2 separate regions of the Homo sapiens genome follow, and region 1 is linked to region 2. Evidence: fine-mapped QTL for protein levels in blood plasma. A gene starts in region 2. The other region holds a variant in brackets. All regions are shown on one strand. Distances are between the middles of the regions.

Region 1 (2,903 bases), 150 kb before region 2:
GGTTCCCTTGTTCTCAGGCTTCCAGATGGGTTTAACCAATAGCAGGTGCCAACAGGAGGCCCCAGGGCAGGAGAAGAGGAAGGGTGGGTATCAATTCCCCTGGGTTCCTCTTTGCTGGGCTACAGGTTGACAGCCTTGTACTCTTCTACCTAAGGCCATGGCTCCTAAGGGCGGTCCTTGCTTGCTGTGGACTCATCTATCCCCGTCCATGGAGGCTCAGAGTGGCATAATGGCTTCCTGCTGCTGCCAGCCTTTAAGGTGGATCACGTATCTTGCCGTTTTCCCTCCAACTCTCTCCACACGTTATAAATAGTTCCTTTTGAGAATGCATCTGTTTCCTGGCAGGAAACATTACCCACAGGTTGAAGATGCCCTAATCTAGTTCAGGAAGTGATTCTGACCCTGCGACTACCTGGAAAGGGAAGGCCCCTCCCTCCCCCATAACTGATTCTTGTCCCTGTTTTCTCCACTCTGCCGCAAAAGCAGCTCTGCCTCGTCCCTTCTAATCCATCAGAGCGTGGGCCGCAGGGTAGAAGCGTGCAATGGAAACTGTGGGCTGGTCCATAAAATCCATGACCAGATGCCACCCTTTCTGCACTTACCATCCAGTGGTCCCATCGGGCTCCTGTCTGAAGTGCCCACCACCATGGAGGTGAGGAGTGGGATGGACAGAGGACCTGCTGACCCTCTCTGCTCATCTCCCTTGTGAGTCCAATCCATAATCACCTCTGGGAAAGTGGGGCCCAGGGCCCAGCCCTCCCTTCCTCCATCTCACTGTTAGGAATGCCACTGGCCGTACTCTTGACTGCTCCTTCTAAGTTCCCCCACTCAAGACTGTCCCTCCTCCCTTCCTTCTGCCCACTCCATCCACCTACATGATCACTTCTCCGATCAGACCCAGACTCAACAGGGCGCAAAGGCCCTCAACCAGGAGGGGACTCCCCGACACCCCTGCTTTGTTTAGCAGCCTACAGGATTGATGTGCTGGGGACAGAGAGGCCACCACCGTCTGGGAAGCCAGGCATATATGTCCATGTATATGACCAGAATCTTGTTGTTTTACCAGGGGCCAGCCCCCAAAGACCTTCTCTTTCTGTGCTCAGTTCCCAGGGCTGGGAGCCGCAGCGGGAGCACCAGGAGGGGCTGGTCTGGGGTGCTCCTGTCTGGTTGCTGAGGAGGCCTCCTGATCCCTCAAGGCTTCCCCGGGGGAACCTCTGGCCAGCTGCCCTGCTTCCTACAGAAGTGTCTAATTATAGCTCTTTAGGATGGGTAGTCCTGATGTTTTTTCTTGGTACTAGTATGGCTTAGCAGTAAGGCAGACTGCCAGGGGATCGGAAGACCTGGGCTCTGTTCTCAAGACTGACATTGATGACTATGGAACACTGCCGAGGGTTTTCCCTTTTTGGGCCTCAGTTTTCACATCTGTGAAATGAGAATTCTGGACTGGGTGATGACATTCAGTAATTCCAACTACGTTCGGATGATATTTCCACTCCTGACATTACTGGGTGCCTGTCTGCTCTAGGTCACTACAGAACATTTTTCCTTCCTGGGAACTGGCTGTCCTCCCATACCCACCCCAAGGTTCCTGGCCTGTGAGCGTGGCCTCGTGCGACCTAGCCACA[AG/G]GGTCCTGATGGGGGGACGGGGAGGAGACTACTCACAATCTTCTCCGGAGTAACCGATGACGGACTCTGGCTCAGGGCCCTTCCCGAAGTCATTTTCAGCCTGGACTCGGATCTCATAGGGCACGTAGACTGGGGTCTGCCCCACCACGTAGCGAGAGCCCCACACTGTGACGTTGTTCCAGGCCTCTCGAGTCTCTCTCCGCCTCCACTTGACAATGTAGCGCAGGTTGGGGCCAAAGGCCGAGGTGGCATTCATGGGCTGGGCAGAGGGACAGACAGGCTGGAGAGGCTGCCAGAGAGGGGCCCAGATCCACCCACAGCTTGCCCTCTCTTGCTGTGCCAGGCATCCCTTCCAGATGTGCCCAACACTGGCCTGCCCCCTTGCAGGGTAGGGAAGACCATATCCCCCACCCCAGTGAGTCCCCCAAAAGCCCAAGGTCCTGTGAACCCAGCAGCATGCAGATTTTCTGTGACACAGGCTTCGCCTGAGACCCAGTTACTCTGACTCTGAGAGCCACCCGCATTTGTAGGTGCAAAGGTTTTATTTTCAACAAAACTCCTTCCTGTGACAGGAGCAACCAATAAAGCAAAATATAGACAAAAGGTAAACTTCTCCAAAGTCAGAAGAAATGAGTTGTGGTTAACCACAGCATGGCTCCTGCTAATGAACTCAAAATTCCAGAATGGACTTTAGTTCTACCGAATTTGTGTGTGTCTGTCCTGTCCTTCCCAAGAGGTCAGAGTTCTTTAAACATGGGTGTGATTCTGCTCTTTATTTTCTAAGGGCCTGGCCCAGGAATCAGTCCTCTTGGAGCCTGCTATACAGAGCCACAGACCAGGGTCCTGAATCTGGGCTCAGCCCAGCTGCCGTTGCCCTGTTTGGCCAAGGCTGCTGTGGGAGCAGCCTTCAGAAAGACAGGGAAGGTCATGATCCCAAACACTGCATCTCCCAGTTTCCATTACTCATGGCAGAAGCTCAGAAATGTTAATATTTCAGTGGCTGCGTTTGCATTCTCAGACTGGGAAGTGGTTTGGGAAAAAAGTCATTTTGAGACCACATACTCCAGTTTTGGTTTGGAAAATGTAGTCAGTGAGCCAGCATGAAGATGGGATTTTCTAAGACCAGAGGGAGTCTTTGGAATGACCTAGTCCATTCTTGGACCAAAAGAAAGCCTGTACTGGACACATCTCAGATGTTGGTCTCTCCCCAGCTCCCACAAATCTCCAGTGAAAGGGCCCTAGGACACACCAGAACTTGGTTTGGTGTTGTGCTTAGA
Region 2 (2,903 bases):
AGGTGATTCAGCACTCTGCCCACTCTTGGCCCAGCCCATGGGCCACACTCATGACAGCTCCAGATGCCAAAGTGCTGACTTGGAGGCTGAAGCAGAATCTTTTCTAAAATCCAAAATTATCCAGCCCTCCAGCAGGGCTCCTCATCCAGGCCTTTACATCAGGGCTCAGGCCAAGCCCCAGGAGGAGTCTGCTCAGTCATTCCCCTGGACCCTGCCCCTTCCCCATCCTAGTTTCCCAATGCCTAGCACCCCCTCCCCCAATCCATCTAGGAAACAAACCTGAACAGCTAGAGGAGTAGAGTGGCTGCATGGCTGGAGAGGAACATAAGAGAGAGGCCTACTAACCCCCAGCATTCTTCCCCAAGCCACAAATAGGATCGAACATGCAGAAAGGGGTTATATTCCACAACCAAGATCCCCACCCAGGGAAGGGGGGTCCAGAGGCCACTGAGGGAGGGCTGGGTACAGGCTGTATGGCTCCACACAGCACCAGGAAGGGCAGCTAGGGAAGGTGACGGGTGTCAGGCCAGCTAACAGCCAAAGGGGGGAGAAGGCGGGGTTCTTGAGAGGGACTGTGATGCAGGAGGACACCAAGAGGCAGCTGGGAAGGGGCTGGGACAGGGCGTGCAAGGGGGAACCAGGGGAGGACAGAAACTGAGGGAGCAAATGGAGAGACAGGACACCAACTGGTAGGGGCATGAGATGGGGAAGAGAATAGGGGAGGCAAGAAGGGGCTGATGTGTGCGGTAGGAAATACAGGAGGCATGGGGTCATCCAAAGTGGGGTGTCGAGGTAAACAGAAGTACAAGGGCAGGCAGGGCTCACGGATGAGGCGGGGACAGAGAGGAAAGGGAAAGGGTTGAGGATGCGGGAAGGGGGAGGGGACGCGGCCAACGAGATAGAAAGGGTGTTGGGGTGGGCAGGGGGCTGGGAGCTGGACGGGGACGGGGTGGGCATACGAACAGAATCGGATGGATTCGGGGCAGGTGACAGTGTGGAGAGGGGAAGGGATGGGAATGTGGACGGAGGGGGAGGGGGCAGGTCAGGGGATGGAGACAGACGAGGGCGGGAACAAGGGGGTGTCGCTAGGTGGGTTTCCATGACTCTCTACCCCCATCTCTCCGGTGTTCGCGCTCGCCTACCTCCAAGGGCTCGGGCTCCGGCCCTGGGCGCTGTCCGAGCTGTCCGCTGCCGGCGCCGCCACTTCCCCCGCGTCCCCTGCAGCGCCTCTCGCCGCCAGCCGCCGCATTAGGGCAGAGACCAGCCCGTGCGCGTCCCCGGGCGGCCGGCGCGCCCCCGACACCCTGCGTGCGCGCCCCCGCGCCCCTCCCTTCGCGCTCCTAGCGGCCGCTGAGCGGGGACCAGGACAGAGGCGGAGGGAAGGATGCTCCGGACGCAGCCCCGCCTGGCGCGCTGGGGAGCGGTGCGCAGAGCCAGGGCCGGAAAAAAAAATCCTCCTTTCTCTTTTCACCTGAGGCCTCTTTGCGGGCTTGCCTGGAGAGTGATAACTAGTCTCCCCGTTTCCGTTCGCTGAGCACCTACTACGTGCAAAGCACACAGGAGGAAGTACCCTGAAGCCCCAACAGGATCGCTTGTTTGCACCTCCACCATAGACTGTGACTTTAGGGAGCAGGAAGTTGCCGGACAGCTTGTGTTCTCAGGGCCTAGCACAGAGACTTGTTTGTGGTAAACTCTCCAGCAACATTTGTTGATTGGCAAGTCGTTGGATCCTGATTCAGGGATGTGAGAGAGGTTGTGACTGCTATGAACAGTGCGGGGCTTTCTTTTAGAAATGGGAGATTTCCTCTGCCCTAGGGGGACTCAGGCCTCAGTCGTGGCTGGAGAACTATCTGACATGATAGCAAGACATTTATCTGTGGACATCAGTTTCCACAACTGAACCATGAAAAGTTGATTGGGTGGTCGCCCAAGGTCTCTTCTAGCTCTGACACGAAGACTGCATTAGGTTCTGTGCACAGGATCTGAGCTCAGAATTATCACCTGAAACAGTGGAAAGATCCCAGTTAGGGAATCATAGAATCTTTGTCTTGGAAGAGCACTTGGAAGCTTCTAGTTCAGCTCCTCATCCAAAACTACAGTCCCCTGCAGCATCCCTCTGTGGCCCCATTCAAGGGCTACTTTCTCTGTGCTCATAGCTCCTACCCTGGCACCACTGTCTTTTATTCTGGATGAGAACACCAAAGTTCAAGGAACCTGCCCAAGTAATAATTCAAAGCCCAGATGCATCTGACAGTGCCTAGTTAAAACTACTTTGCTATTTTAAGATGGGCCCTACAAGTTTTAGATTTCACCAATACTAGAATCTTCTAATATGGTCAAGTTGAAGGATCACAGGATTTGCCAAGAAAGTCCTGGCTTACCAGCAGGGTAAACTTGGGCAGTTCACTTAACCTCTCTAAGTCTTCTTTTTCCCATCTGTAAAATGGGCATAGAGTGAGCATCAATGAGATAAGGTACTGAACCAAACTGTTCTTTACAAATGTTAATTATTGTTCAGCCTTCCCTCCCCTTTCTTCATTACTTTTAAACAGCAAATACACGAAGGTCTAGAGAGATGGACCCCACACAGTGGTTTGGTGGTTGAAACTGAACTGGGACTCAAGTTTCATGGCCTTAGTATAAAGAAATTAAGTGTGGGCCTAAAGGGAGCATGGTGACCCCCAGAGGCCCTGAGGGTGAAGGTGTTTCCTTGGCCTCGGTGGTGTCCCAGAGCTGCAGGCAAGTCCTGATGGAGGGAGAGGCACCCCCTGCTGGTGATGGACTCTGGGGACTAAGAAGAGCCTACGCACCTTGCAGGCTGTTCTGCTGCTGTGTCAGGAACAGACTCACTCAGGACCGAGGGCAGAAAGTGGTTGCTCTTTTTCTTTCCTGACATTTATCTG

Direction of the effects. Positions count from the first base shown, and alleles are read on the strand shown. Strength reflects both the effect of a copy and how common the allele is.
With allele G in place of AG in region 1, the plasma level of the protein whose gene starts at base 1,273 in region 2 is higher (strong association).

The links. PIP is the chance, under the fine-mapping model, that this variant and not a neighbour inherited with it causes the effect. The UK Biobank Pharma Proteomics Project read protein levels with antibody pairs (Olink). The fine-mapping took linkage between variants from a reference panel, not from the people measured, so its PIPs are less certain.
Region 1: its variant is fine-mapped to the plasma level of the NFASC protein (UK Biobank, PIP 0.99).

Annotation. Positions count from the first base shown.
Region 1 is chr1:204,980,780-204,983,682 of GRCh38, reverse strand. It overlaps NFASC (neurofascin), which reads right to left. Exons shown (of 30, transcript NM_001005388.3): 21 at 1,663-1,885. Among named protein-coding and RNA genes, the nearest start is that of CNTN2, 61 kb to the left of the region's middle. The variant AG/G (reference allele first, on the strand shown) is at 1,626.
Region 2 is chr1:204,827,022-204,829,924 of GRCh38, reverse strand. NFASC (neurofascin) reads right to left here and starts at 1,273. Exons shown (of 30, transcript NM_001005388.3): 1 at 1,143-1,273.